2 separate regions of the Homo sapiens genome follow, and region 1 is linked to region 2. Evidence: fine-mapped expression QTL. Tissue or cell type: whole blood. Region 2 holds a variant in brackets; the other region holds the start of a gene. All regions are shown on one strand. Distances are between the middles of the regions. Region 1 holds the start of LINC02175 (long intergenic non-protein coding RNA 2175). Region 2 has its middle 11 kb from the start of ARHGAP17.

What was found. PIP is the estimated chance that this variant, and not a neighbour inherited with it, causes the effect.
Region 1: it holds the start of LINC02175, and the variant in region 2 is the best candidate, but not a certain one, in a credible set for the expression of LINC02175 in whole blood (TOPMed, PIP 0.87).

The regions. Positions count from the first base shown.
Region 1 is chr16:25,064,379-25,069,603 of GRCh38, forward strand. LINC02175 (long intergenic non-protein coding RNA 2175) reads left to right here and starts at 2,509. Exons shown (of 2, transcript NR_135197.1): 1 at 2,509-3,268; 2 at 3,401-4,577. It also overlaps the pseudogene SCML2P2. RefSeq lists a silencer at 2,412-2,801.
Region 2 is chr16:25,023,626-25,029,119 of GRCh38, forward strand. No RefSeq gene overlaps it. Among named protein-coding and RNA genes, the nearest start is that of ARHGAP17, 11 kb to the left of the region's middle. The variant C/A (reference allele first, on the strand shown) is at 2,285.

The sequences.
Region 1 (5,225 bases), 41 kb after region 2:
AAGTAATAAACCCAACTTGCTTAACTACAAAGTGTTTCATGTGGTCTTTACTGGAGGACATTCACAACTGTAAGAGTAAAAAAGGATGGTTAAGTTTCTTGGGGAAGTTAAGGGAGTCTCATTCTGAGGGCTCCCATTTTCTATGTTAAGCAATAGGTGAAATTATCTTCTTTCTTTATTTTTTGAGATGAGGTCTCACTCTGTCACCCAGGCTGGAGCCCAGCAGCGTGAATATGGCTCAATGCAGCCTTGACCTCCTAGCCTCAAGTGGTCCTCCCACCTCAGCCTCCCATGGAACTGGGACCACAGGCTCTCATCACCATACCTGGCTAATTTATATATTTTTTTTGTAGAGATAGGGCCTTACCATCTTACCCAGGCTGGTCTCGAACCTCTGGCTCAAGCAATCCTCCCATCTTGGCCTCCCAAAGTGCTGGGATTACAGGCGTGAACCACTATGCCACAGTTGAGTTTAGAATGTTTATTTAAAATCTTGTGACACTGAACTCAATGACTAGTTCTCGGAAAACTTACTTTTTAATAGTGTATTGTGGTGTAAGGCCTGAAATTAGGATTCATATCAAATTCTGTCTTTACATCCATTTAAATCAAGAGGGCCTCAAATGGCTGAACTCCAAGCCTCGCTCCCTGTCTGCTTCCGCAGATGAAATTCTCTGGCTAAACACTCTCCTTATTTTAGGGATCAGACACAGAGCCTGCTTATCCCCAAACAGTAGGCTTCAGTTCCCTGCCAGCTCAAGGACGAATTATTCAGACAAGCCAGTCACACCCTCCCGTGGGAACCAGGGCTCACTCTGCACTTTTGTTACTACAAAGCCTGCCTCCAGCAGCCCCTCCTTGTTACCGTGTTCCGGAGTGTAGCCTCCACATTGCCCTGCATAGTGTGCAGGGTCCTTCTCCCCTGGACTGGAGTATCTGTGACCAGTCAGCTGCTGTTGATTGCATCCGTCCTGCATCAAGTGTTGTGTGTTCGGCCATCCCCGTATCTCTGGGGGTGGGGACAGGGGCGGGGGCAGGAGCGTGGGGGGAAGGAATCCCTCTTTCATCAATGGAGTAAAGAGTGTGAATAAAACGATTGGCATCACAAACAGTGTGGCCCATCCTTGATTGAGGACCCCTGGTTAGCTTTAACTAGCTGCTCCTTTACTAAGTAGCTGGTTTTGTTTGTTTGTTTATTTATTTATTTAGAGACGGAGTCTTGCTCTGTCTCCCGGGCTGGAGTGCAGTGGCGCGATCTCAGCTCACTGCAACCTCCTCCTCCCGGGTTCAAGCGATTCTCCTGCCCCAGCCTCCCAAGTAGCTAGGACTACAGGCGCCCACCACCACACCAGGCTAATTTTTGTATTTTTAGTAGAGACGGGGTTTCACCATACTGGCCAGGTTGGTCTTGAACTCCTAGACCTTGTGATCCACCCACTTCAGCCTCCCAAAGTGCTGGGATTACAGGAGTGAGCCACCGTGCCCGGCCTAAGTAGCTGGTTTTATAAGGCGGCCAGGACTATTGAGAACATCACTGCCAGTTGCTGGCCAGCTTGCCCTTCAGCTAATGAGTTTTGTTATCTCAGTAGGTGTTGCCACTTCTTCCCACCCTGACGAACGTTAATGGACTGTATCTCCTTGTGAGGTCCCATCAGGTGTGGCCCGTGTCGGCCAGGTGGTTTCCCAGGCTCCCACCTGGGGGCAGCAGCAACACGACATCCTAACGGGTGGGTGCCTGAGTTCCACTAGAGTGAGGCTAGACTCTGTGGTCTTTGGTCTAGCCTCATGACCATCGCTCCATCACCGGCTGCTTGGGACAGCCAGGCAGACACTGTTTGGGAAAGTGTTCCAGCATAGTCCTGTGGATAACCCTTTTTCCTTTCCCCAAACACCAGGGTTTTTGGAACCATCACCTGGGAAGATTTAGGAATGGCTCCCTGGTGGTCTCCTAACAGCCTAAAGACCCCATGGGCTTTTCTTGGCGGTGTTGCTTATCTGCATGCCAAAGGACCAATCCTGTGGGCAAGGGGCTCGATGGCCCCACCTGGACCCTAGACAAAATGAACGTACTAGGGGGATCCCAGCACTGAAGATTTGCCTGGCCTTCCTGGGGGAGCAGTATGGCCGCCCACGGAGCCGGCTGCTGGTCTCCCTTTCCCATAACCTCCCGGAAGATCCACACCACGAATGATCTGATGGGGACAAAAACCCCGGGACTCGAGGGACCGTTGCGGCGGACCCTTAAAACACCTGGCAATCCCATTAAATTGAAACATGGTACATATTTTGCTCTTCTAGTTTTGGCTAATACGTTCTATTTAAAGGGTCTCCCAGCCACAGTTTGCCAGCGGGCAGGCGGCGCCGCAGGAAGTGACCGGGCAAGAACGGGGGTCGCCGCCCAGCTCGGCCTTCTGGTCTCTGCGCCCTCGGCCTGGGGCTCCAGGCCACAAGGGGAGGCCGTGCTGGGCGGGCCCGAAGGGGGTGGGCGGGGCCCCGGAAGAGACGTGGGGGCGGGGCCAACGGACCGCGGAGGCGGAGCCGCTACAGTCTGGGCGCTGGAGCGGTGGGAGCAGCGCTCGTCCGCCGTTGGGGCCCCCAGCCCGCGCGCGTGAAGCAGCTAGCCGACCAAGCCCCGGAAGGCGAGTGCCGGAGGGGGCGGGACAGCTCCTCCGGGGCCAGCGGGCACCAGGCTTGGGGGCTGAGGCCCAGCGGCCCGAGACCAACTGGGCTGACCGAGGCCGCCTCCCCGCCAGCCCTGGGGTCCACTGCCCGGGGAGCAGCTCCCTTCCCAGGTCAGACTCGGGCTTCATCCTCTCTTGCCGCGCGCCGAGCGGTTTTCAACTCTCACTGCTAGAATTCCTCCAACCACCCAGGATAGCAGGACCGAGATACATGGCCACCCATGACCCGGAGCGTCCACTTCCAGGGACAGGCAGTGGTGATTGGCTTCGGTTGTCATCTGTGCCATCTGTCCATGGTTCGAGAAGCTGCTGTTCACGTTTTGGGGAGGATCATGGTTTGAGGGCTCCCGTGGTAGAATTTGGGGAGCTCTCATAGGCAGAAGGCTGAGAAAAGTTGGTGCTGTGGGAAGTCAACTGGCAGCCGATGGAGTCGGGACCCGGGAGGAATGGAAAGGGAACCCAGATAGGAAGCTACTGCAGTAGGCTCAGAGAGGTGATGACGGCAGGGCTAAGACAGCGGCCTTGGGCGGTGACTGGGAAGAACGTTGAACACCGTGTTTGGGCTGAAGAAAAGAGCAAGGGAAGAGGTGAGGAACTTCAGGTGAGGGTTGATGTAGATGTTACTTACACAGGTAACAGACATTCTTCACCTTTTCATTGTTTTACAATGATTCATTCTCTCTCTCTCTAACATATAATTGTGATATTTTCACCTGTAGTCCCAGCTGCTCTGGAGTTTGAGGCAGGAGGATGGCTTGAACCCAAGAGGTGGAGGCTGAAGTGAGCCAAGATCGCGCCACTGCACTCCAGCCTGGGCGACAGGGCAAAACCCTGTCTCTAAAAAGAACTTTTTAAAAAAGCACCTGTAGATTTAAGCACATAATAACTACACTTTTGTCTGTTTTATTATGATATCAAAGTTAAATTTATGATGAATGACTAACTGGACAAAACTGAGAGCAACCACCACAGAGGTGAATATACTGAATGTATAACACTCTCTAATAATTTTAAGAACTCCGCTCTAATGAGCAGATATCACAGAAAGAGACTTTTCAGATGAAATACCGATGACCAGGAAATCTGTGAGACCATTTTAAAAAATTCGAAGTCATTGAAGAAATGCAAAGCTTCCAGGCTCCACTTTTCACTGATGAAATTGGCAGAGTTTGGGACAATGAGATGTTGCTGTCCCGGGAGTGCGGATGGGGCTGTGTCCTGTGATGGCGGTGGGCACTGGCACTCTTGTCCAGAAAGACATTCACCACTGTGGTTCAAGAAGCACCTCAAAGGTCTTCACCTTGGTCCCTTGTCCACCTCTGCCCGCGGTCTCTCCTCCTTTCAGCCTCCTCTTTCCCACACAGTCCCTCCCGCCCTGGCTTGGTCCCCTTTCTTCTGACTGGGTCAGGCATGTGGGTGACTCTTTGACTTCCAAGGCTCTGTCTACTTGGCTTTTTTCTTTCACCTGTTCTGCAGAATAACAGCCTGATTCGTTCCTCTTTTTGGGTCCTTCACTTCCATACCTGGGATTCGGGGCGTGGCCCAGAAAGACCCTGCAGTCTTGCAGTGTGGGGCTGCCAGCATTTCATGGCCTCCAAGCTCAGCTGGGCTGAATGAACGCTGCCATCCAGCGCTTGGCTCATTTTCTGTCCCATTTTCCTGAGTGCTTTTGCCAGACTTACACTTTTCTGAAAGCTACTCCACCCTACCCCAGACACACCCTCTCTCCTCGGATGACCTGCCTCCTAATTTCCTGAGAAAACTGGACATGGCCACCTTTCCCCAGTGTCTGAGGCCCAGGTTGACCCGTGGTCATGGTCGCTGTCACCACCCACCTGCCTGTATGACAGAGTGAGACCCTGTCTCAAAAAAAAATAAAAAGAATGCCTCATGTTAGGCTGGGTGTAGTGGCTTATGCCTGCAATCCCAGCACTTTGGGAGGCTGAGGCAGGAGGATAGTTTGAGCCCAGGAGTTCAAGGTCAACCTGGGCAAGAGAGGGAGACCCTGTCTCTACAGTTAATTTTTAAAAATTAAGGCAGGGCATGATGGCTCGTGCACGTAATCCCAGCACTTTGGGAGGCTGAGTCAGGACGATTGCATGAGCCCAGGAATTCAAGACCAGCCTGGGCAATGTAGAGAGACCTCCATCTCTACAAAGAATTTTTAAAAATTAAGGCAAGGTATGGTGGCTGATGCCTGTAATCCCAGCACTTCGGGAGGATGAGGTAGGAGGATAGATTCAGCCCAGGAGTTGGAGGCTGCAGTGAGCCATAATCACACCACTGCACTCCAGCATGGGCAACAGCGTAAGACCCTATCTGAAAATACATAAATAAAAGAAAAAGTTAGCTAGGCGTGGTGGTGCATTCTTGTGGTCCCAACTACTCAGGAGGCTGAGGTGGGACAATCACCTGAGTATGGGAAGTCAAGGGTGCAGTGAGCCAAGATGGTGCCATTGCACTCCAGCTTCGGTGACAGAGAGCCAGACCTTGTCACCAAAAAAACGAAAAGTCTCCTGTGAAAAATGACAATTTCCAGTGGAA
Region 2 (5,494 bases):
TCATCATTATTATTTTGAGACAGAGTTTTGCTGTGTCGCCCAGGCTAGATTGCGGTGACGCGATCATGGCTCACCGCAGGCTCAACATTGCAGGCCCAAGCAATCCTCCCACCTCAACCTCCCAAGTAGATGGGACCACAGGCATGTGCCACCACGCCCTGCTAATTTTTTTATTTTTTTGAAGAGATGAGGTCTTCCTATGTTGCCTAGGCTGGTCTCATACTTCTGAACTCAAGCAATCCTCCCACCTCGGCCCCCTCAAAGTGCTGGGATTATAGGCATCAGCCACTGTGCCAGCTGCTTTCTGGGGAAAAAAAAAAAAAAAAAAATATATATATATATATATATATATATACACACACACACACATACATATATACGTATATATACATATTAAAAAAGTGCATATTTGCATATATGTCAGTGTATTCTCTGATTTGCTTTCTATTTATTCTTATTTTATTATGTATGTATTATGTATACACATACATACACATATATACACATATACACACACACACAAATATATATATCTCACTACATCTTGGACATCTTTCCAGATTCTGTGAATGATTTCATCATCATCTTTCTTTTTTTAGAGACAGGGTCGGTCTCTGTCATCCAGACTGGAGTGTAGTGGCACATCATAGCCTATGGCAACCTCAAACTACCAGGTTCAAATATTCCTCCTGCCTCGGCCTCCCAAAGTGCTGGGATTACAAGCATAGCCACCAGATCGGGCCATCTTATTTTTTCTTTTCTTTTCTTTTTTTTTTTTTTTTTTTAGATGGAGTCTTGCTCTGTCGCCCAGGCTGGAGTGCAGTGGCACGATCTCGGCTCACTGCAAGCTCTGCCTCCCAGGTTCACGCCATTCTCCTGCCTCAGCCTCCCGAGTAGCTGGGATTACAGGCGCCCACCACCAGGGCCGGCTAATTTTTTTTTTTTCAGTATTTTTAGTAGAGACAGGGTTTCACCGTGTTAGCTAGGATGGTCTCGATCTCCTGACCTCATGATCTGCCTTCCTCGGCCTCCCAACGTGCTGGGATTACAGGCGTGAGCCACCACGCCTGACCCAGGCCATCTTATTCTTTCTAAAAGCAGATGTTCATCCTATGCATATACTGTAATTTATTTAACTAGCTCCTATTCGTCAGCATTTGTTTGTGCCCCAAATCCTAGGAAATGTTCATGGGCAACTCCCTTGTTTATTTCCTCAAGGGCCTCTCCAAATCTTTATCACTTTGCTCAGGCATGATCATGCCTTATTAAGACATTAGAGACCAGCAGTCAAGACCCCCATACCCCCTTCCTGTATCCCACCATCCTCTCTTCATTCATCTATACTCCTTCCCTTTTGTTTCAGAGGAAAGGGATCCAGCTTTGCAATTGAAGGCTAACAGTCCCCTGGACATTATCTATTCAGACTTCTTCAAAGACCTCATTCTACTGATCTCCCATTCTGCTTTGTCTTTCATCTGTCTCTATCCCTAAGCACACAAGCATGGCTGTTTCTCCTGATACATCACATTCTCCTTTCAGCTCCTCCAGCAACCAACCACCGTATCTCTCTATCTTTCTATCTTCTGAAAGAATTCTTTACTCTTTATAAGTGTCTCATTTTGTAATGACTTCTTTTTGAAAGTTCTACAAAATCTTGTCTCATTTATGCCCCAGGAATCTTCTCATGGCTAAATCCAATGTATATATATTTTTGTCTTTGGTTCACTTAAGTCTGATAAATATTAACCACATGTTCCACATACTCATTCTTTAAATTCTTTTTTTTTTTTTATTGAGACGGAGTCTCACTCTGTTGCCCAGGCTGGAGTGCAGTGGCGTGATCTCGGCTCACTGCAACTTCTGCCTCCTGGGTTCAAGCGATTCTGCTGCCTCAGCCTCCCAAGTAGCTGAGATTACAGGCACTTGCCACCAGCCCAGCTAATTTTTTTGTATTTTTAGTAGAGATGGGGGTTTCACCATGTTGGCCAGGATGGTCTCGATCTCCTGACCTCGTGATCCGCCCACCTCGGCCTCCCAAAGTGCTGGGATTATAGGCATAGGCCACCGTGCCCAGCCTCATTCTTTAAATTCTTTCTGCCTTCTTCATTTTTAGTGATACCACTCTCCTCAGGTTCCCTTCCTCACACCAGACCCTTCTTTCTCAGTCTCTTTTGTGGCTGCTTCTTCTGACACCTCTTAACTATAAACATACTCCAAGGTACCATCTTTAACTAACAGGATCTTCTCATTCTCCCTGCAGTGTCAGGGCCAGCTCAACCACTCC[C/A]ATGATTCTGCTTTCACTGGTATGCCAATGACATCTGAATGTCTATGTCTAACCACCTCATTCTCCTGATGCCACACTGGTTTATCTAATTGTCTGCTGAACACATTTATCAGCATGTCCATAAGCATCTCAAAGTCAACATGTCTTAAGAAGAAGCATCACCAGTCACGGTGGCTCATGCCTGTAATCCCAGCACTTTGGGAGGCCGAGGTGGGTGGATCACGAAGTCGGGGGATCGAGACCATCCTGGCTAACACGGTGAAACCCCGTCTCTACTAAAAATACAAAAAATTAGCTGGGCGTGGTGGCGGGCACCTGTAGTCTCAGCTACTCGGGAGGCTGAGGCAGGAGGATGGCATGAACCCGGGAGACAGAGGTTGCAGTGAGCTGAGATAGCCCCACTGCACTCCAGCCTGGGCAACAGAGCAAGACTCTGTCTCAAAAAAAAAGAAAAAAGAAGCATCATGCCTGTAATCCCAGCATTTTGGGGAGGAGGATTGCTTGAGCCCAGGAGTTGGAGACCAGCCTGGGCAGCATAGGGAAACCCTGTCTCTACAAAAAAATTAGCCAGGCACGGTGGCTCATGCCTTTAATCCCGGTACTTTGGGAAGCCAAGGTGGGTGGATCACTTGAGTTCAGGAGTTCAAGACAAGCCTGGCCAATGTGGTGAAACCCCATCTCTACTAAAAATACAAAAAATTAGCCGGGCGTAGTGGTGCACACCTATAATTTCAGATACTTGGGAGGCTGAGGCAGGAGAATAGCTTGAGTCCAGGAGGCGGAGGTTGCAGTGAGCCAAGATTATGCCACTGCACTCCACCCAGCCTGGGCGACAGAGCAAGACTCTAACTCAAAAACAAAAAAATTTTTTTTAATCAGCTAGACATGTTGGCACATGCATGTAGTCTCAGCTAGGCACACTCATGTGGGTGTGTCCAGAGGCTGAAGTGGGAGGATTTCCTAAGCCCAGGAGGTAGAGGCTGCAGAGTGAGACCCTGTTCAAATAATAATAATAATAGAAAAGTAAAAGAAACTCAATATCTTCCATTATAGCCTTCTTATAACCCAAGGAAGAGGCCTCAGAACCATGACTGATCTCTCTCTTTCTCTCTCCCCTGTATTTTTGAGACAGAGTCTCACTTTGTCACCTGGGCTGGAGTGCAGTGGCGCAACTTGGGCTCACTGCAACCTCCACCTCCCAGGTTCAAGCAATTTTCATGCCTCAGCCTCCTGAGTAGCTGGGATTACAGGTGTGCACCACCACAGCTGGCTAATTTTTTGTATTTTTAGTAGAGACGGAGTTTCACCATGTTAGCCAGGCTGGTCTCGAACTCCTGACTTCAGGTGAACTGCCTTCCTCGGCCTAACAAAGTGCTGTGTCTCTCTCTCTCTTTCACACCCCCTTCATATCCAATGAACCAATGAATATATCACATTTTGTTCCTCTTTTCCCTGTCCCCATGTCTGTGGTCCATTCCTTCCTGTCCTTATATGGACTGGGGCAATTGACTCCTTACTGACCTTGCTGGTTCCACTCCTGGCCTCCCTTGAATCCATTCCCCACACCGCCATGAGGGTGGACTTTCTGGCATGAAAATCTGATAACGTTGCTTACCTACTTTAAATTATTTCAGGAGTTTCCACTGCCTGGAGTCCAAACTTTAACAGGGTATTTGAGGACTTGCCTTTAGAGCCTTGCTTTCTACTCATAGACCACCCTCCAGCCACGTGTCACTTCTTGCAAACCCCAAACAGACTATTACCCAAATAACTTTAAACCCATAAGCCTAATCATAGCAGGGTGATGCCTTCAACAAAGTTTGCACTAGAAACATTTTACTTTTATTTTATTTATTTATTTATTTTGAGACAGAGGCTCCCTCTGTCACCCAGGCTGGAGTGGAGTGGGGCACGATCTCAGCTCACTGCAGCCTCCACCTCCTGGGTTTAGCACCTAACCACGAGAAAGAGGACCACAGGGCGAGGTAGTCTTCAAAAACATGAGCTTTACAGATGTCCCCCAGGCTGGCCAATACAGGCAATTGAGGGACCTGTGTGGCACTGGCATAGGAATTGTGGGTCCCCGCTGAGGTGTGACTAATCGATGACTGTGGTGACAGGGAAACAGGAGTGGAGGTGTGAAGGGATGATGTGCATTTTCCACTTTGTAACTTAAATAAGAGTTCTTCCAGGAGCACGTATGCCTCTCGAGCCTGCTGCTTGGGGATATCAGAGAAGTGGAAGGTTCTATTAATGCCTTCTCCAAGAGCCCATGAGGCACTGTGGATTCTGAGATGTGAAATAAGTACCCTGATCACTACCAGTAATGTGTAGGACTTCCAAGAGTATATGGAGTGCCACAGTGAGACCTTATATTGTGGCCTTTGTATACGTAGATGTAGAGATATCTTTTTTTTTTTTTTTAATTGAGAGAGAGTCTCACTCTGTCGCCCAGGCTGGAGTGCAGTGATACAATCTCAGCTCACTGCAACCTCCACCTCCTGGGTTCAAGTGATTCTCATGCCTCAGCCTCCCAGGTAGCCAGCTAATTTTTGTATTCTTAGTAGAGACTGCCATGTTGGCCAGGCTAGTCTCGAACTCCTGACTTCAAGTGATCCTCCTGCCTTGGCCTCACGAAGTGCTGAGATTATAGGCATAAGCCACCACACCCGACCATTTTAAAAACATGAGTTATCTATTACCTCGGTTTATATTTTCAGTATTTATGAGGCAAGAGATTCCCAGAGTTCTTTATGAGCACAAAGGGAACAATTCTTAGACAATGGCCCAAGAGTTTGCTATAAATATGGAGATGGAGTCATTTGTTGGCTAGGGCATTGCTGTGGTCTGAATGTTTCTGTCTCCCTGAAACTCAAATGCTGAAATTTTAACTCCCAGTGTATTAGGATGTGGGGCTCTTGTGAAGCGATCAGGCCACGAGGGCAGAGTTATCATGAATGTGATTAGTGTCCTTATAAGAGAGACCTGAGAGAGACACCTCGCTCCTTTGACCAAGTGAGGATACAGCAAGACAGCATCATCTATGAGTCAGAAAGCAGGCCCTCACCAGACACAGAATCTGCCTTGACCTTGGACTTGCCAGCCTCCAGAACCATGATAAATAAATTTCCGTGGTTTATTTTTATGTATGTATATATGTATTTATTTTTTGAGACAGGGTCTCTCTCTGTCACCCAGGCTAGAGTGCAG